Linked DNA regions of Homo sapiens: regions 1 and 2 are each linked to region 3. The links come from fine-mapping of genetic effects on gene expression. A gene starts in region 3. Each other region holds a variant in brackets. All regions are shown on one strand. Distances are from middle to middle. Region 1 overlaps LOC124902866 (a long non-coding RNA gene). Region 2 has its middle 9.0 kb from the start of CD9. Region 3 holds the start of VWF (von Willebrand factor).

Region 1 (6,094 bases), 31 kb after region 3:
AACAAGCAAAAGTAAACAAGTAAAGTTTGTAGATACAAACATATGTGATGAAGCTTTTTTTTTTTTTTTTTTTTGAGACAGAGTTTCACTCTTGTCGCCCAGGCTAGAATACAATGGCGTGATCTTGGCTCACTGCAAACTCCGCCTCCCGGGTTCAGGTGATTCTCCTGCCTCAGCCTCCTCAGTAGCTGGGATTACAGGCGCATGCCACCACACCCAGCTAATTTTGTATTTTTAGTAGAGATGGGGTTTCACCATGTTGGTCAGGCTGGTCTCAAACTCCTGACCTCAGGTGATCCACCCGCCTCAGCCTCCCAAAGCGCTGGGATCACGCCCGGCCGATGAAGCTACTTTTTTAAAGCAAGGAAATAACAAACACCAAAACTCAGGGTAATAGCTATCTCTTCAAGGGAGACAGGCATACAGAACAGGAAAGAACACATAGGCACATACAACCCTGTTGATAATGTTCTAATTCTTAGATGGGGTAGTGGGTTCACAGATGTTCATTTTGTTAGCATGTCTCATAATACATACTTTGCATTTGTTATTTTATATATAAAATTGCTAAAGAAGAAAAAACTCCCTCAAAGAAAACAGCCCCCACTTAGCAACAGTTAGGAACAGTAAGTCCTCAGTTATAGAGGGTGAAAGACAGCTTCTTCAGCAGCCAATTTCCAGCTGAATTTGACTTGAGCTGCTAGATTCGGTCAGAAGCCTGGGTGGGCAAGATGTGAAGGAGAATCAAGCCAAAAGGTGGAAGCTCACTCTGTACCCTGGGAAGTAGAGAAGGGCAGAGGCTTGCCCAGTGCCACACAGCTCACTGATGGAGAGTCAGGGTTCGCGGACTGACCAGTGACGTACAAGGAGCCAGAAGGGAAGACGTGAGGGGTGGCGGGTAGCACCGAGGCCGGCCAGGCCAGGCACAGGACTGCAGCCGTCTCTGGCATGCGGCCCAATGCTGATCACAATCAGATTCCCACCAGAGCGGAAGAACAGGACCCCGCCAGCACCTCCCAGATCCAGATCCAGGCTCAGACAGGAACCAAGCAGAACTGCTATCATCTTTGCGGATCAGGGTTCCTGAAGATTAAGGAACCAGATGTTAGGGCTAGAGAAAAAAAGGGTGGGGGCCGGGTGCTGTGGCTCATGCCTGTAATTCCCACACTTTGGGAGGCTGAGGCGGGCGGATCACTAGGTCAAGAGATCGAGACCATCCTGGCCAACCTGGTGAAACTCCGTCTCTACTAAAAATACAAAAATTAGCTGGGCGTGGTGGGCGCACGCCTGTAATGCCAGCTACTCGGGAGGCTGAGGCAGGAGAATCGCTTGAACCTGGGAGGCGGAGGTTGCAGTGAACCTAGATCGCACCACTGCACTCCAGCCTGGTGACAAGAGCGAGATTCCGTCTCAAAAAAAAAAAAAAAAAAAGGGTGGGGGGAAAAATTTCCCTTTAGGGTGGTTGTGAAGAAAAGGGTACCAGGTTCACCCTGTAGAAATACTGCCCTTGGGGCTCTCTTTTTATCCTATCCTACATCCACCAGCCCTTAGCCTAAGGCTGCCTGCTGCGGTTTGAGGACAGGACAGACACCTTCCCACTTATCCATCAATTTCTCTAATGTCATCGGTAGCACCCAGTGTCTAGTTTAGGTTTTTCTACCCTCCCTTCTCCGATGTTCTTATGGCACTACAGATGCTGGGAACAGTTCTGTATCTATATGTCGTGCCTCATTTTATGATTATTTGCCTCATTTCATGATTATTGCATTCCCTTTGGAGGGCTGTCAGCGTGTGAAAGTCAGGCCCATGTCTAACTTCTTTTTTTTTTTTTTTTTTTGAGACGGAGTTTCGCTCATCACCCAGCTGCAGTGCAGTGGCTCGATCTCGGCTCACTGCAACCTCCGCCTCCCGGGTTCAAGCGATTCTCCTGCCTCAGCATCCCGAGTAGCTGGGATTACAGGCGCCCACCACCACGCCTGGCTAATTTTTTTGCATTTTTAGTAGAGACTAGAGTTTCGCCATGTTGGCAAGGCTGGTCTTGAACTCCTGACCTCAGGTGATCCACCCGCCTCAGCCTCCGGAAGTGCTGAGATTACAAGCCTGAGCCACCACGCCCAGCCCGTCTAACTTCTTTTTATTCCCTAGCAGCTTATTCAGAATATTATGCATAAAATATCTCAATATTGATAAAATGTAAACTGTTTAAATCTGGGGAAGAAGGAAAACGCTGTAAAACTATTATTGCCAGCCACTAACCCTTTGGTATAAATTAGCTTTCAGAAGTTTTTTTGAGGTATATTTTGTTAAGGAAATTCAAAGACAGTTCAAGGAAACTTTCTTTTTAATTATAAAGTTTCTTGAAGCAAAAGGGGAAAACAATATGTGTTTGTTCAGAGAAGGTTTTTTGAGCGGGGAGGAGACAGGGTCTCACTGTCACCCAGGCTGGAGTGTAGTGGCAGTATCACGGTTCACGGCAGCCTAGACCTCCTCAGACTCAAGCGATCCTCCCCCCTAAGCCTCCCAAGCAGCTGCGACTACAGGCACAAGCCACCTCACCCAACTATTTTTTTGTATTTTTTGTAGAGACAGGGTTTTGATATGTCACACAGGCTGGTCTCAAACTCCTTGTCTCAATTGATCCACCCATCTCAACCTCCCAAAGTGCTGGGATTACAAGCATGAGCTACTGTGCCCAGCAAGAGATGATTTTTTTTTATCATGATTTACTCATGTCCTAAAATACTACAGAGACATTAAAAATAACGCGATCTCTACAGACTGACATGGAAGGATATCAGACATGTTACTAAGTTGAAAACAAAACAAAACCTTGCAAAACATTTACAGCGTGATCTTATTTTTGTTAAAAACAAAATTTTTAAAAATACACACATCTGTGTTGTGGAAAAGTTCTGAAAAGATATCAATGAAATAATAAACAGTTATTTCCCCTAGGGCATGCTTTTTAAATGTATAATGTATATGGATTACCTGAGGGTATTGTTAAAAATGTTAAAATTCAGATCCTGATTCAGTAGAGCTGGTGGGGCCTAAGAATCTGCATTTCCAACAAGCTCACAGGCAGTGATCCTG[G/T]CTTGCAGAGCCAGTTTTTACATTTTCAGGAATTTTGTGGCTCTGTTGTTAAATACATTCATTATTAAATACTAAAGTATATATAATCATCGTAAAACAAGTTACATTTAAGACAGAGATAACGACTCAAAACTCATACTTCCTAATTATTTTATATTTTACTATTATCTATACCCTTGAGGTTATACATACCAATGTCTGTATCTGTGTGATGGAAATGACACATAATGGTGTGTTACTGTGAAGTCTTCCCAGTTTTCCATTGAGTAACATCACATGGGTGGCATGGAATCTGACACGCTGGAAATAGTTACACCACAGAAATTGGCAGACACTACAGATCATGGCTTTTCTTCCAAAGAGTCACTTGTTAAACATTGATCAACACACCACTGCTCCCAGGCACACAGCACCAGCCTAGGACACGAAATTGATGTGGGGAAAGATATTTGGTGTTTTTTCCCTTTTATTTTTTGTTGACGATAATTGTCCATTTTTTATGGGATTCAAAGTGGTATTCTGATACATGCATATGATGTATATTGATCAAATCAGGGTAATTAGCATATCTAACATCTTGAACACCGATCACTTCTTTGTGCTGGGAACACTTAAAATCCTACCTTGCAGCTTTTTGAAACTATACTTGAAACTATTGTTAACTACTTTCACCCTACAGTGGTACAGGACACTAATGCTTATTCCCCTCAGCTTAGCCAGCTGTAACTTTGTATCCATTAACCAGCCTCTCCCCAATGTGGGGAAAGGTTCTATGAGTGAGAGGAGGAATGGGTGCTGACCAGGAAGGCTATGAACATTAAAGATGAATTTTTCTACACCAAGATTGTCTGTATTCCTAGCTCGTTGGTAGCATGGAGTACTTAACAAGTATTTGCCAACTAAGAGAATGAATCAATGCTGGCTGTGAAGAGAACCAAGTAAAGTTTCCGTTGGAAAGCACAGGAAGCCCACTTCACTCCCACAGGAGCTGGGGATGAGAAAGAGTGGGGGTGGGTATCTGCTCCTAGGGGGCCCTGGCAGGGGAAGCCCAGGACTGGCCCTCTTGCTGACTGGCACCTCAACATTTCCTGTACGGTTTTAGTTGCTGCACCTGAGAGGCAGTATGTACTTAACTCCTCCCCTGGAGGTCAGCAAGAGAGGCCCACGGCTGCCCAAACTACTGGCCAAATAAACAAACAGCCAGGCCAGGAAGCAGACAGCGGGGCCCCAGTAGACTCTGGGACTGCAGCAGCAGCCACAAAGTCTGGAAAAGGCTGAGCCAGAACCCACACCCCGATCCCTTTTCTCCCCCCCAGCCCCTCCCCTGCCACCAGAACCTTCTGTCTAATGCTATCTCTCCCTCTATCCCCTGCCTTACTCCTCTGACCCCTCTGGGCAAAGTTCCATGATTAATGGAACCATCCATTCCTCAGCTCCTGCCCTTTCCCTTGCCACCAATCCGAACTCTCCAGAACTGAGGTCAGAGCAATGGCCTGGCTGGCCCGGCGGCCATCTGAGCAGACCCAGGCCAAGCACTCCCTCCCCGTCACTCTCCGAGTATCAGGTCCAGCCATCCCTCCTCTGAACGCCATGCAGGGGCAGCTTGGCTTCTGGGCTCTGCACAGCAGCACATCCAGCACACGCCACTCAGCGTCCTATAAGCGTCTACTGAGCCCCGGCTGTGTGCTTGCTGGCATTGCTGTCGAAAGTGGAGGTACAGATTGCCAGACAAGACACACAAAGAGCTTACACTTAATGGAGGGAAAAAGCCAAAAAACAAGAAAGCAAATATAAATCAGATGGTGATAAGGGCTAGCAAGAGAATAAAGTAATGTAAGGGGGACAGCAAGTGACAAGAGTGGGTGGTATTTATGCAGAATAGCCCCGGAGGGCCTCTGCGACAGGTGCCACTTGAGAAGAGACCTGATATTGAGAGGTGACAGCGTGCTGGCAGTCCTCACAGCCCTTGCTCGCTCTCGGCGCCTCCTCTGCCTGGGCTCCCACTTTGGCGGCACTTGAGGCCTTCAGCCCACCGCTGCACTGTGGGAGCCCCTTTCTGGGCCGGCGAAGGCCGGAGCCGGCTCCTTCAGCTTGCAGGGAGGTGTGGAGGGAGTGGCGCGAGCGGGAACCGGGGCTGCGCGCAGAGCTTGCGGGCCAGCTGGAGTTCAGGGTGGGCGTGGGCTTGGCGGGCCCTGCACTCGGAGCAGCCGGCCAGCCCTGCCGGCCCCGGGCAACGAGGGGCTTACACCTGGGCCTGCAGCTGCGGAGGGTGTACTGGGTCCCTAAGCAGTGCCGGCCCACCGGCGCTGCGCTCGATTTCTCGCCGGGTCTTAGCTGCCTCCCCGCGGGGCAGGGCTCAGGACCTGCAGCCCGCCATGCCTGAGACCCCCCTCTTCCGTGGGCTCCTGTGCGGCCGGACCCTCCCCGACGAGCACCGCCCGCTGCTCCACTGGCACCTAGTCCCATCGACCACCCAAGGGCTGAGGAGTGCGGGCACACAGCGCGGGACTGGCAGGCAGCTCCACCTGCAGCCCAGGTGCGGGATCCACTGGGTGAAACCAGCTGGGCTCCTGACTCTGGTGGGACCTTGGAGAACCTTTATGTCTAGCTCAGGATTGTAAATACACCAATCGGCACTCTGTATCTAGCTCAAGGTTTGTAAACACACCAATCAGCACCCTGTGTCTAGCTCAGGGTTTGTGAATGCACCAATGGACACTCTGTATCTAGCTGCTCTGGTGGGGCCTTGGAGAACCTTGTGTGGACACTCTGTATCTAGCTAATCTGGTGGGGAGGAGGAGAACCTTTGGGTCTAGCTCAGGGATTGTAAACGCACCAATCAGCACCCCGTCAAAACAGGCCACTCGGCTCTACCAATCAGCAGGATGTGGGTGGGGGCAGATAAGAGAATAAAAGCAGGCTGCCCGAGCCAGCAGTGGCAACCCGCTGGAGTTGGCTTCCCCAATGTGGAAGTTTTGTTCTTTCTCTCTTTGGGTGCACG
Region 2 (7,460 bases), 65 kb after region 3:
GCGTGCACCTGTAGTCCCAGATACTTGGGAGGTTGAAATGGGAGTCTCGTTTGAGTCTGTGAGATCGAGGCTGCAGTGAGCCATGATCTCACCACTGCACTCCAGCCTAGGTGACACAGTGAGACCCTGTCTCAAAAATAAACAAATAAAACCAGCTAGAGCATATAAGGTGCCAGAGTGGGAAATCAGGTGCTGGACGTCAGCAGAGGCTGGTTTACAAAGGCCCGTGCCACACAATGAGGTTCAGACTTCCTTTGTCTTTAGGCAGTGACTCCATGGCCATATTCTCCCTCTCTCTAAACCCTTCCCACAGGCCACAGGTAGACATTAGTGACAGCTTCTTACCTTCACTGTATTTTACCTGCCCATATCTACCTGAACCTACAGACGAAAGTCCCATCTCTTATACACAGACACACATGCAGACACGTGTGCACACACACACTGGCCCTCTAGGGGGACCTTTGTCCAACCCACCCCAGATACAGCTGGGAGAGACAGCGACCCTGCCTCTGGGTGCTTATAGTTTCAGGAGCATCAGCCAAACATTATATGAGACACAAAGAAACTGTCAGCAAGATAGATTCAGCAACTTCGTTTGCCCTTTGATATGAATAAAACCTTCTCAGGACCAGCTTAGGCTAAGCTGTGTGGAAATGGGAAGCAGGCATAGAGCTGAGCCCAGTGGCCCCCAGCACTGCCCTGTCCCCACCTGTGTCTTGCTACGGCTGCCTGGTCAGTCCTGCTCTCAGATATCTGGACCCCTGCAACTCCTCACTTCCCTAACTCTTCCTCGCCTTGTTACCATCTAATGATTGGCGTCCACCACATCCTATATCACCAGTTAGGAGGTGAGTTTCTCATGAGCAAAACTAGGGCGTGGCTTATCCTGGGCACCTCCCACAGCCTAGCACTCAGGTGCTCAGTAAATGTGGGGTGAACAGGACCTAGCATGCTGGGCAAAGACACTCAGAAGACAGAGCTGAAAATGCTCATCTTGCCAACATTCTCCAAGACTCCAAGCCTTGGGGCTATTTAGCATTTTATAACAACCAAGTCCACTACTCCTGTACTGAGATTAAAATTGAAAATCAAGTTTATAAGCACCCTTATAGTTTACAAAGCACTTACACATCCAGGATTTCATCTGACTCTCTTACAACAGCAAAGTAGGAGTTTTTACTAAGCCCATTTTGTGGATAACGAAATGGAGTCTCAGAAAAGCAGAGACTTGCTCAGGTCATCTCTGCTCCCAGGTAAGTATGCAGTAGGGCTTGCACCTGTGACTTCTAATTTCAAGCCCCATGCTAATTGCCTACAGCTTCTCTACCCTCTTACGCAGGAAATACCACAAATACATAGCCCCCAGAGTCCCTGCTCCTCCACCTGAAGCCAGAACCACCAACCAGAACAGAAGCCAGCAGCCACAGAGTGAAGAGAAGCTGCAGCTGCTACCCATGGGCTGGCATTGCCTACCACTGAGCCAGGGGCAGGCTGCCTGGGCACATACCCGCCCATCCCCACCCCTCATGGTGGAGAAAGAGCAGTAATCATCCTCGCTCTGCAGCTGTGGAAAGCGAGCCTCAGAGGAACAGACAAGCACCAGCAAAGGCAGGACCCAATTGCAGGCTCACCACCTGTCAGCAGCCCTAAGACTCAGAGTCGCCTTGCAGGGAGGCACCTTCAAGATGGCACAACTGCTGAGGAGTCATCTGCAGCCCCTTCACCCACCTCTACAGTCAAAGGGCAAAAACGGCAGTGTAGTGCCAGTCCACATTTACCTACCACAGGAAGCAGCAGCTTAGCACCTGGGCTCTGGAACCAGGCCACCTGGGTTTACATCCCGGCTCTGCTGCTTCCTAACAAGAGCATGAACCGCCTGTGACTTGGCTTCCCCATTTGTAAAACTATCAACCTCAAAGGGTTGTTTGTGGATTGAGTTTATATACAGCAGTTAGAACAGCATTAGTTACATCTTATGTACCCATGCAAGTGTTAGTTCTTCAGACCTACTACATTAAGTGTCTGGAAGGTACCTACTGTGGGTACAACAGGAGCTGGTAATCTAGCTGGAGAGTATTTATTTATGGGGAAGGAGTCTTGCTGTGTCGCCCAGGCTGGAATGCAATAGCACCATCTCAGCTCACTGCAACCTCCGCTTCCTGGGTTTAGGCAATTCTCCTGCGTCAGCCTCCTGAGTAGCTGGGATTACAGGCACCTGCCTGAAGGGATGGGTTGCTCCTCCACACCTGTGGGCACTTCTCATTAGGTGGAACGAGACTTGGAAAAGAGACACAGAGACAAAGTGTAGAGAAAGAAAAAAAGGGGGCCCAGGGTGTGTCTGGAATTGGTAGGTCCTTGGTCTCACTGACTTCAAGAATGAAGCCACGGACCCTCGCGGTGAGGTGAGTGTTACAACTCTTAAGGTGGCGCGTCTGAAGTTTGTTTTTTCTGACGTTCAGATGTGTTTGGAGTTTCTTCCTTCTGGTGGGTTTGTGGTCTTGCTGGCTTAAGGAGTGAAACTGCAGACCTTCGCGTTGAGTGTTACAGCTCTTAAGGCAGCAAGTCTAGGAGTTATTCGTTTCTCCCAGTGGGCTCATAGTCTCACTGGCTTCAGGAGTGAAGCTGCAGACCTTCGTGGTGAGTGTTACTGCTCATAAAAGCAGTGCAGACCCAAAGCGTGAAAGAACAAAGCTTCCACCACGTGAAAGGAGACCCGAGCGGGTTGCTACTGCTGGCTCACGCAGCCTGCTTTTATTCTCTTATCTGGCCCCACCCACGTCCTGCTGATTGGTAGAGCCCAGTGGTCTGTTTTGACAGGGCGCTGATTGGTGCGTTTACAATCCCTGAGCTAGACACAAAGGTTCTCCTCCTCCCCACCAGATTAGTTAGATACAGAGTATCGACACAAAGGTTCTCCAAGGCCCCACCAGAGCAGCTAGATACAGAGTGTCAATTGGTGCATTCACAAATCCTGAGCTAGACACAGGGTGCTGATTGGTGTGTTTACAAACCTTGAGCCAGATACAGAGTACCGATTGGTGTATTTACAATCCCTGAGCTAGACATAAAGGTTCTCCACATCCCCACCAGACTCAGGACCCCAGCTGGCTTCACCCAGTGGATCCCGCACCAGCGCTGCAGGTGGAGCTACCTGCCAGTGCCGCGCCCTGCGCCCACACTCCTCAGCCCTTGGGTGGTTGATGGGACTTGGCACCGTGGAGCAGGGGGCGGCGCTCATCGGGGAGGCTCGGCCGCACAGGAGCCCACGGAGTGGGTGGGAGGCTCAGGCATGGTGGGCTGCAGGTCCCGAGCCCTGCGCCGCGAGAAGGCAGCTAAGGCCCAGT[A/G]AGAAATCGAGCGCAGCGCGGGTGGGCCAGCACTGCTGGGAGACCCAGTACACCCTCCGCAGCCGCCGGCCCGGGTGCTAAGCCCCTCATTGCCCGGGGCCCGCAGGGCGGGCCGGCTGCTCTGAGTGCGGGGCCCGCCAAGCCCACGCCCACCTGGAACTCCAGCTGGCCCGCAAGCGCCGCTCACAGCCCCGGTTCCCGCTCGCGCCTCTCCCTCCACACCTCCCTGCAAGCTGAAGGAGCCGGCTCCGGCCTTGGCCAGCCCAGAAAGGGGCTCCCATAGTGCAGCGGCGGGCTGAAGGGCTCCTCAAATGCCGCCAAAGTGGGAGCCCAGGCAGAGGAGGCCCCCAGAGTGAGCGAGGGCTGTGAGGACTGCCAGCACGCTGTCACCTCTCAAGGGGACCAGCGTTCAGCATACGGAGGATCCCGCCAGCCTCTGAGTTCCCTTAGTATTTATTGATCATTCTTGGGTGTTTCTCGGAGAGGGGGATGTGTCAGGGTCATAGGATAATAGTGGAGAGAAGGTCAGCAGATAAACACGTGAACAAAGGTCTCTGCATCATGAACAAGGTAAAGAATTAAGTGCTGTGCTTTAGATATGCATACACATAAACATCTCAATGCCTTACAGAGCAGTATTGCTGCCCGCATGTCCCACCTCCAGCCCTAAGGCGGTTTTCCCCTATCTCAGTAGATGGAATATACAATCGGGTTTTACACCGAGACATTCCATTGCCCACCTTCCTCTTGTCTCAACTGCAGAAAGGTGTTCCTTCCTCTTTTACTAATCCTCCTCAGCACAGACCCTTTACGGGTGTCGGGCTGGGGGACAGTCAGGTCTTTCCCTTCCCACGAGGCCATATTTCAGACTGTCACATGGGGAGAAACCTTGGACAACACCTGGCTTTCCTAGGCAGAGGTCCCTGTGGCCTTCCGCAGTGTTTGTGTCCCTGGGTACTTGAGATTAGGGAGTGGTGATGACTCTTAAGGAGCATGCTGCCTTCAAGCATCTGTTTAACAAAGCACATCTTGCACCGCCCTTAATCCATTTAACCCTGAGTTTGACATTGAGATTAACAGCATCTCAAGGCAGAAGAATTTTTCTTAGTACAGAACAAAATGGAGTCTCCTATGTCTACTTCTTTCTACATAGACACAGTAACAATCTGATCTCTCTTTTCCCCACACCCGCCATCATGCCCAGCTAATCTTTTTTTTTTTAGACGGAGTCTCACTCTCACCAGGCTGGAGTGCAGTGGCGCAGTCTCAGCTCACTGCAACCTCCGCTTCCTGGGTTCAGGCGATTCTCCTGCCTCAGCCTCCTGAGTAGCTGGGATTACAGGCACCTGCCACCACGCTCAGCTAATCTTTTTTTTTTTTTTTTTTCTGAGACGGAGTCTCGCTCTGTCGCCCAGGCTGGAGTGCAGCGGTGTGATCTCAGCTCACTGCAAGCTCTGCCTCCCGGGTTCACGCCATTCTCCTGCCTCAGCCTCCCTAGTAGCTGGGACTACAGGCGCCCGCCACCACGCCTGGCTAATTTTTTGTATTTTTAGTAGAGACAGGGTTTCACTGTGTTAGCCAGGATGATCTCGATCTCCTGACCTCGTGATCCGCCCGCCTCAGCCTCCCACAGTGCTGAGATGATAGGCGTGAGCCACCGCGCCCGGCCGCCCAGCCAACTCTTTTAAACAGATGCATGAAACCTGAAATTATCACCCAGGACAAATCTTGTAAGAGTCTAGTGGATGATTCAGAAAGAAGTTGCTACAGGAGTGTCCTGAGAAAGAGGATCAGAGCAGACTAAGATGACTGAGGGTGCTGGGGAAGGCAGGGGCTGGGCTGGCCTCAGAGATGGTGCAGGCTGCTTGAAGGGCAGAAAGGAGGAAGTGCCAAGAGCTTGGGCTTCGGAAAGAAGAGGTGGGGACCCAGGCATAGAGCTGGGGATGCATGTGGTATTCCAAAAGAGTGAACAGATTTGCAAACAGAGGTTAAGGCGAGAGAGCAGAGGGCCTGTATGATGATCTTACAATTGAGACATCGGCTTTCCATACATTCAATAAATATTGTGCACCTACTGTATGTCAGGCACTGTTCAAAGCCCTTGGGATACATAGAGAACAGAACAGCCATGCGGATTTTGCATTCTAGCTGGAGGAGACAGGTAAATAGCAATGCACATACCAAGGAAACATTCCACTCTGTGAGAAGGTAAATGCTATGGGAGCATTGTTTGGAAGTAGAACAGGGGTAAGGGGAGTTGGGAGATCTTTGAGCAGGAAAGAGTAAAGCTGAGCTTCAGGAGTCTGATGAAAGGATGATATTAAATATTGCTTGTTTAGAATTGCTCCCCGCCTGCCCCCAACCCCCATATACTAAGGAGGACAGACCCTGAGAGCCATGATTTGTTTTGCTGAGCAGGGTGAGGGGAGGTGGGGACACAAACGGAAAATGCCAAGTTTAGAGCTAAATTGCTCCACACAGACATATGCAGAGGACATCCACAGGGCAGGGGGCTGGCTGAGGCTGGGCTGGGGGGCAGATGATAGGGGTGGCTGCCACAGATTGGACGTTTGAGAAGAGCTATCCAGAGGGATTCTTAGAATGGTTCTCTCTGGCATATGAGAGGGAACCCCTCATCCACCTATCCGTGAAACCTTCATAAAATCCACACTGGACATAGGCAGTTTCCAGGTTGAGTGTGTGTGTGCTTAATGCAAGGAAAAGAAGTGATGGGTGAGAGGAGGGCAGCCCACCCCCAAGGACGCACGCAGCAAGACTCTCTGGGTCCAATGTTGTGTCCATCCTGGGCAGGTGAACAGCAGCGAGGCAGGGCAAGGGTAGAACAGCCGTTTGGGCTGCAGATGAGCTTCCAGGATGCAGCCCCCTTGCGGATGGCAGGGCATCAGGGGGAACAAAAGATCAGGATCCAACCCTGGACTGAAACCAGAAGCTCTGAGGTCTGATCTGTGCTCTGCCACTCAATCACTACAACCCGCCTTAGCCCTGGTGCCTCCCAGCAATGACGTAAGAACAGCTAAGAAACAGGAATCACATTCACTAAGCAGCTGTGAGGCTGGGGGAAGGAGGAGCCCCAGGTGATGGGAGGTGTTGGTGCTGACTGATTAGAGACAGGGAGGGCTGAGGAGAAAGTCAGCTGCGAGCCTAGAAAGCCCTTGGAGATTATGAATTCTGATCTTGATGTTTACATTGAGATTACTATATTTCCTATTGCTTCGGTAACAACCACAAATTTAGTGGCTTAAAGTAACACATATTTACTATTTCACAATTCTAGAGGTCTGAAATCTAAAATGGGTGGGCAGGGCTGTGTTGGATCCCTCTGGCAGCTGCAGGGGAGAATTCGTTTCTTCGCCTTCTCCAGCTTCTAGAGGCTGTCCTTGTTCCCCAACACACAGCTGTGCATCACTGCGACCTCTGCTTCTGTCGTCACATCTCCTTCCCTGGCTTTGACACTTCCACCTGTCTCTTATAAGAACCCTTTGGATTCCACTGGGCCCACTGGGATGGTCCAGGCTATGCCATGGAAAGTAACACATTCACAGTTTTGGGGATTGGAACGTGGGCCTATTTGGAGGGCCGTTAGAAGTGGAAACGGGCCAGGCACGGTGGCGCACGCCTGTAATCCCAGCACTTTGGGAGGCTGAGGTGGGCGGATCACCTGGGGCCAGGAGTTCAAGACCAGCCTGACCAACAGGAGGAAACCCCATCTCTACTAAAAATATAAAAAATATAAAAAATATAAAAAACACGGTGGCTTACGCCTGTAATCCCAGCACTTTGGGAGGCTGAGGTGGGTAGATAACGAATTCAGGAGTTCAAGACCAGCCTGGCCAATATGGTGAAACCCCGTCTCTACTAAAAATACAAAAATTAGCTGGGCATGGTGGTGTGCGCCTGTAGTCCCAGCTACTTGGGAGGCTGAGGCAGAAGAATCACTTGAACCCGGGAGGCAGAGGTTGCAGTGAGCCAAGATCGTGCCACTGCACTCCAGCCTGGGTGACAAAGCGAGACTCCGTCTAAAAAAAAAAAAATTATTAGCCGGGCATGGCAGCGCACACCTGTAATTCAATCTGCTTGGGAGGCTGAGGCAAG
Region 3 (7,423 bases):
ATGCAGAGAGTGTGACAAATGTGTATTTTTTTTCCCAGACTCACCTGTGGGCAGTAGCTGGATGCTGCTGACCTGAGAGATCTAAGTGGAAAGCGCCCAAGGTCAAAAGTCCCCTCCCGCCATTTGCAGACCCAGAATCTTAGCAAGGGAAGGGCAGCAGTATGATGCAGTGCAGTGGAAAGGGTGTTGGCCTGGAACCCAGGAAGACTGACCTCTGATTTTGGCTCTAGGAGACTTTGGAGCAGTCATTTCTCCTCTCTGACCCTCAGTCTCTTCATTGTACCATGGGAGGTTCAACAAGGTGACCTCCACAATCTTATCGAAAACTAATAATCCATCCAAGTCTTGGATTCCTTCCTCCTCATCCTGTGCCCCCATAATATAGGACAGTTCTGTGCCACCTTTATGCTTCTTAATTCCCCAACAGGAGATGGCATTTGCAGGCACCTGGTCTCTGGAATACAAGTCAAGGGTGGGAACTCCGCAGAACCTTCACAGGAGGCAACCAACAGCCTAAGTTAGGGCTGGGCACACAGGTGAGCTCCAGACACACCTGCTGATTCCCGGAAAGGTGTCACTCCAGATGGCCCTGGGGCAGGAATGAGAAATGGAGGCCCTTTTGTACCTACCTGGCAAAATGAGGGCCAGAGCAAGCAGCACCCCGGCAAATCTGGCAGGAATCATCTGCAAAGAAGCAAGAGACGTGAGCTGGTCATTGCTGCCCAGGTAGGCGGCTGCTGGTGTGGCGACTATCAGGGCATGCAGTAGCAAAAACATTTCTTTAAAGCAGGAGAAAAGATTGATCCTCGTGACCCCCTTTTCCCCTTTGAACATGGACTTCTGGCCCCCGAAAAAACCCCTGGCCAGTGCCAGGCCCAAGGGTAACAATCGCTGTGAGCTGGGACCTGTGGGCACCTTTCCACAGACAGCAGTCCCAGGCCCAAGACAGGAGGAAAACGCTGCCTTCCCTCCAGGCCCGCTGGGCCTCACATCCCTGCCTCCTGAAGCAGCTGGGAGCTAACACACACCTCATTCCTTCCTGCCTCTGCATCCAAACTGGCGAGTAGGAACCGTCTTACACTTGTGTGCCCACCACAGCAGCCCAGACATAGAGAATGCTCAGGAACCACCAACTTGACGGTTTGCTTGTTGGCCCCTGACTCTGTACCACAAGTGCCTTCACAAGAGCAAAGGCTGTCTCCCTTGCCTCCAACCCCAGCACCTGGCAAGATGCTTAGCACCCAGGAGATGCCCAGCAAATGTTTGCTGAGTTCATCTGAAAAAATGGACAGGAGTCCAGCGGCCCTGGATGCAGGCAGACTTCCCCACTGTGTGACCCCCAAGAGAGGGACAATTCATCCTGGCTGGCAGAGCGTACCCCAAGTCACTTAGAGCCCCTGCTGTAGCCCCTCTCCTCGGGAAAAGTTGTTAAATGAAGTGCAGAATCTGCTGCCTGAGATTCACTGGGGGTGACTCCCTTCCTACCTAAGGTCCCATCCAGCCAAAGGTGAAATCAAGCCAATCTGTGATACATCTGTGGAAGGAACACTGAGATGTCAGATACTGCCAGGTCTCGGTCTCCAAGCAGGTGTCCCCTCCCAGTCCTAACACGCAGGTACATTCAGCTGCTCCCAGGTTCTCAGAGGTGAGGGCAAACTTCATTCCAACTCATTTGAGTGAAGTACTATCAAACAGTAAAACCCACTGCATGAAGAAAAGCAGCCCCAGGACCCTCAGAGGCAAGTGGAGGAGGGAGTATTAGGATCATCCCTGGCTGAATTGAATTGCCCCTCCAAACAAAGCCCTTCTAGTCCAGCGACAGAGAACTCCAGCTCCCCAGGAGCAGGGATCAGTCAGTCCTGCATCTTCCTCCCACAACTGAGCCAGCTCTCCTTCCAAAGGCCATACCTTCCCCTGCAAATGAGGGCTGCGGCTATCTCCAAGGTCCCTGGGAAACTCAGCTGCTGGACAATGGTGCCGCCCACCCTAGGCCATGCTCTCAGCTGCTGCAAAGGCTCAATCAGGTCTGCTACAGCTCCGGACTGTCTTGCTGTTATGTAGCCCAGGGGCTGTGGAGTCCCCACTGCTGGGGGAGATAAAGCCCAAGCTGTGACATCCACCAACCACCCTCCCTTTCCCACCACAATAGCTGTGAGCTGCCACAACAGGGGATTGGCCTCCTTTTAATTACCAAAAGGAAACAATGAAAGGAAATGGTATTAGAAGTACCTCCAAGCTGATAAAGCTTTGTAGAGTTTGGAGGGAGACCTCCTGGCAGCTGCCTTAATTAACTGCCTTGCCCTCCCCAAACACCCCCTATCCCTACACCCCCACACTTGATCCCTGGTCTTCCTAGAGTGCCCCACCTGTGTGGGATAACCAGGAATGCTGGTTGTTTCAGGGCAAGCTGATACAGGCCAGGGGGAATCACAGTAGAACAACACAGCTTCCTGATCCAGCTTCCAGGGCTGGACTCCAGGGAAGTTGAGAAAAACACCTCAACCTGAGCCAATTTTGCTGCTGTGTTTGGAGGAAGGGGAGTACTAACACTTCCTATGCACCCCAGGTATGAAGGATCCGGTCCTGGCCCTGACAAAAACAGTCCATTTGGATCCTGGCCAGGGTTGAATGGATCGGCTAAAGATGAAGGTCTTGGCCACAAGCCTAAGCCTTTGTAAAATGGTGAAGGTGGGGAGTGATGGTTTGAGTCTAATACTTCTACTGTTGCTACATTCTAATAATTCTAATTCTCAAGGACATTTCCACCCACTTCTGGTACCCTGATCTTACACACACACACACACACACACACACACACACACACACACAATTCTTCTTCCCAGCCTCCCATTCCCAAAAGCCTAATTCTCAACACCATCTGCTAAACTAATTCCTACTAAAATAAGTAACTGATGCAATGGGCAGCGGTGGGGGGAAGATGACTCTCGTGCTGGGATTCCAGGCACTGAGACAAGCACCCTGAGGCATGTCTGGGTATGGAAGACCTCCTCACTGCTTCTCCATGATACCTCCTGCCCTAAGACTTTGAGAAACCACTAGGTTCCAACCTCCTCCCTTCCCACATACCTCGCACTCTGCTACTCCCTTTACCGCCCCAGGAGAGGAAGATGCACACTCCCAAGGAAGAAAAATGGCACCAGAGGCAGAATCAGCATGAGACAGTAGAAAAGGCCATTGGGGGGCCGGGCACGGTGGTTCACGCCTGTAATCCCAGCACTTTGGGAGGCCGAGGTGGGCGGATCACGAGGTCAAGGGATCAAGACCATCCTGGCTAACATAGTGAAACCCCGTCTCTACTAAAAACACAAAAAATTAGCCAGGCGTGGTGGCGGGCGCCTGTAGTCCCAGCTACTCGGGAGGCTGAGGCAGGAGAATGGCGTGAACCCGGGAGGCGGAGCTTGCAGTGAGCTGAGATCGAGCCACTGCACTCCAGCCTGGGTGACAGAGCAAGACTCCGTCTCAAGAAAAAAAAGAAAAGAAAAGAAAAGGCCATCGGGATTTCCACTTCCAGCTCTTATTTAAAAAAACTAAATAACTAATCTGAAAACCCTTTCATTACAAAATATCTTTAAATGCTGTGCTAAATACAACAAATGTTCTTTAAATCCACAGTTGATCTGGGAGGAAAGTAAGGAATATCTTAAAGGGTCAATGAGGAAGAGGAGCCTAAATGAGCATGAGGCAGGGTAGGCCCATGGGTGGCCTAGCGTAGGCCAGTCTGGGAACCCTCCAGACTGGAGGCCGCACATTACAAGAATGGGCAGTGCAGCTACGGGCCTGACCCAGAGGGAGAACTAGAACGGAGATCCCTGCAAAAGCTGAAAGTTTGAAGGGAAACATCTTCCAAACAGTGGACCAGGAAAAAAATCCATCCCCCAACCTAGAAGATAAGGAAGTTTGCCTGTCTCCACTTGTTTTGGGGTGGGGTGGCGGGGGGAATTAAGTCTTTTTTTAGAATATTCTTTTCTTTCTTTTTTTTTTTTTGAGATGGAGTCTCGCACTGTCCGCTGGGCTGGAGTGCAGTGATGCAATCATGGCTCACTGCAACCTCTGCCTCCCGGCTTCAAGCAATTCTCCTGCCTCAGCCTCCCAAGTAGCTGGGATTACATGCACACACCACTACACCCAGCTAATTTTTTGTATTTTTAGTAGAGATGGGGTTCCACTATGTTAGCCAGGCTGGTCTCAAACTCCTGACCTCGTGATCTGCCCACCTCGGTCTCCCAAAGTGCTGGGATTACAGGCGTGAGCCACCACGCCCAGTCTAGAATTTTCATCCTTTGCACTCATGCAAATAAAGCTCTCTTGACGATGAATTCAAAATCACAAATTTTTCAACACTTGAGAAAACAATCTACCATGAGCAAGAATTAAATCCCTAAGAATTTCAGATAATAAAATCATCAGAGAAAGATAAAAAGAAAAAAATGAGTGTTTAAAATTATAATAGAGGCTAGGCACGGTGGTTCATGTCTATAATCCTGGCACTTTGGGAGGCTGAGATGGGATAATCGCTTGAGACCAGGAGTTCAAGACCAGCCTGGGCAACACAGCAAGACCCTGTCTTTACAAAGAATAAACTTTTTTCAAGGCAGGGCACGGTGGCTCACGGTGGGTGGATCACAAGGTCAACAGATCAAGACCATCCTGGCCAATATGGTGAAACCCCATCTCTACTAAAAATACAAAAATCAGCTGGGCATGGTGGCACGCACCTGTAGTCCCAGCTACTCTGGAGGCTGAGGCAGGAGAATCGCTTGAACCCGGGAAGCGGAGGCTGCAGTGAGCCAAGATCATGCCACAGCACTCCAGCCTGGTGACCGAGTGAGAGTCCGTTAAAAAAAAAAAAAAAAGAAAGAACAGGAGGAAAACTTGAAAAAGAACTTTAAGGCCAGACGTGGAGGCTCACACCTGTAATCCTAACACTTTGGGAGGCAGAGGCAAGAGGATTGTCTGTGCTCAGTAATTTGAGACTAGCCTACACAACACAGCAAGACCCCATCTCTACAAAAAATAAAAATAAAAAATTAGCTGGGCCTGGCGGTGCATGCCTGTGGTCACAGCTACTCAGGAGGCTGAGGTAGGAGGGAGGACCCCTTGAGCCCAGGAGGTTGAGGTTGCAGTGAGCCATAATCGCGCACTCCAGCCTAGCCAATAGAGTGAGATACTGTCCCAAAAAAAAAAAAAAAGAACTTTAAGAAATGTATATAGTAAATTAATTGAAAAATTCAAAAACACCAGATATTTTTGGGAAAAAAAAAGCTGAAAAATGGTTCTAAAGAAATCACTCAAATATAGAGATGAAAAAATGGAAGAGCAGCCAGGCACAGTGGCTTATGCCTGTAATCCCAGCACTTTGGGAGCCCAAGTAAGGCAGATCACTTGTGGTCAGGAGTTCGAGACCAGCCTGGCCAACGTGTTGAAATCCCATCTCTACTAAAAATACAACTATTAGCCTTGCATGGTGGTGCATGCCTGTAATTCCAGCTATTCAAGAGGCTGGGGCAGGAGGATTGCTTGAACCCAGGAGGCAGAGGTTGCAGTGAGCCAAGATCACACCACTGCACTTTGGCCTGGGTGACAGAGTGAGACTCCATCTCAAAAAAAAAAAAAAAAAAAAAAAAAAATGGAGGCAGAATTAAGAAACATGATAGAATTAGAAGATCCAAAGAGAAGTGCTGAGAGAAGAAGTCCATTTGTGGAGAATTCTATATGCAGTGTCTTAGTTTGAAGTCCCAGAAGCAGACCCTGAGTATTTTAGTGTAGATAATTGATTTGGGAGGACAGGAAGCATCGGCAGGGAAGTGGGAATGTGATACGGGGCAGGGAAAGCAGTCAATAAAAGATGTTTATTATGCCAGCCACCAAGTGGACAAGAAAGCTTCCTTCTGGAGGGAAGTCTGGGAAAATGTAAGATCCATGCCTCTGAATCTTCCCACTCTTGGGTCAGGGAGCAGGAGAGTTTCTACACTTACTCCTTCCTGTCAGTTATTGTCAAGGCTGCTTCAGGAGGCATTCAGCCCTCAACACTTCTGGCCCTCAGGCACGGAGGAGCAGACACTGGTAGTCTAGAAGAAACGGAGAGATGGGGTTAGAGGGCCGTGGCAGAGGGACTGTAACATCTGGTCTACCTGTAAATTATTGTTCAGAGTTGAGGAAACATAGACTTTTTTTTTTTTTTTTTTTTTGGAAAAACAGAGTGGGCTTAACATTAACAGTCCTTTCTGAAGAAACTACTAAAGAAGGAATTTCAGGGAGAAAAAACATTTTTTGTTATTGTTTCTGAGACAGGGTCTCTGTCACCCAGGGTGGAGCGCAGTGACACAGTCACAACTCACTGCAGCCTAAACCTTCTGGGCTCAAGCGATCCTCCCACCTCAGCCTCCCTAGTAGCTGGGACTATGGGCATGTACCACCATACCTGGCTAATTTTTGTATTTTTTTGTAGAGACAGGGTTTTGCCATGTTACCTAGGCTGGTCTCAAACTCCTAGAGCTCCTGGGCTCAAGCAGTCTTCCTGCTTCGGCCTCTCAAAGTGCTGGGATTACAGGTGTGAGCCACCTCGCCCTGCCAGGAAGAAGAAAATTCAGCCTAGAAACAGGATGCCAAGAAAAGGTAAATAAATAAAATAGTAAATCTGGGGGTAAATATGAGCAGGCAGTCATTATATAAAACAATAACAATGGTAATGATAAGTTGGAGAGTTATTAAAAATTAGAACCAAAATACCAGATAGCAATGACATGTAAGACAGGAGTGAAAGTGTATTAAGGTCCTTGCATGGCTCAGAAGGAAGAAACAGGTCATGATCACTTTAGACTTAGTTAAGGCTATACTGCATAGTAAGATTTTAAGGGAGGCTACTGAAAGAATAGAATTGAATGTATGTTTTCCAAACCTATCGAAAAAAAACAAGAAATTTTTAAAAACTAGATTGATCTAGGAGAAAAATGGAAAAAGCAAGACAAATAGTATAAAATGTAAATGCAACAGTACAAAAAATTCAAACAGATCAATAATCAATAATAAAAAGGTAGAGATTATCAAATTGGATTTCTTTAAAAAGGCACACAATCCAGCAATGTTCAAGAGACAGTCCTAAAATATAAACACACAAAGACCGTAAGGAAAAGAAAGGAGAGGCAAGTGATGGCCAAGGAAAAGCGTTTTATACCACTATCACACACAGTGGACCTTAAGATCAAAGTCATCATTAGCACCAAAGAGTAGAAAAAGGTGATACAAAGATCAATGCACCAGGAAGATGGAATCTATAGATTTATGTGCACTTCATAATATAAGCTTAAAATTTATTTTTAAAAACGATTAAATTATAAAGCAGAAAAGCTTTCAGTTTTGTAAAAGTCAACAACACCCAGTTATGGAAAACAAGTAAACAAAA

Evidence for each region. PIP is the estimated chance that this variant, and not a neighbour inherited with it, causes the effect. A credible set is the group of variants that fine-mapping cannot tell apart.
Region 1: its variant is the best candidate, but not a certain one, in a credible set for the expression of VWF in whole blood (INTERVAL, PIP 0.82).
Region 2: its variant is the best candidate, but not a certain one, in a credible set for the expression of VWF in whole blood (TOPMed, PIP 0.57).

What each region holds. Positions count from the first base shown.
Region 1 is chr12:6,154,274-6,160,367 of GRCh38, forward strand. The region is part of intron 1 of LOC124902866 (a long non-coding RNA gene); the gene reads right to left. Among named protein-coding and RNA genes, the nearest start is that of VWF, 33 kb to the left of the region's middle. RefSeq lists an enhancer at 4,744-5,317. The variant G/T (reference allele first, on the strand shown) is at 3,094.
Region 2 is chr12:6,187,693-6,195,152 of GRCh38, forward strand. No RefSeq gene overlaps it. Among named protein-coding and RNA genes, the nearest start is that of CD9, 9.0 kb to the right of the region's middle. RefSeq lists enhancers at 2,705-3,390, 3,391-4,076 and a silencer at 6,404-6,453. The variant A/G (reference allele first, on the strand shown) is at 3,348.
Region 3 is chr12:6,122,513-6,129,935 of GRCh38, forward strand. VWF (von Willebrand factor) reads right to left here and starts at 2,158. Exons shown (of 52, transcript NM_000552.5): 1 at 1,909-2,158; 2 at 630-684. The coding sequence starts at 684.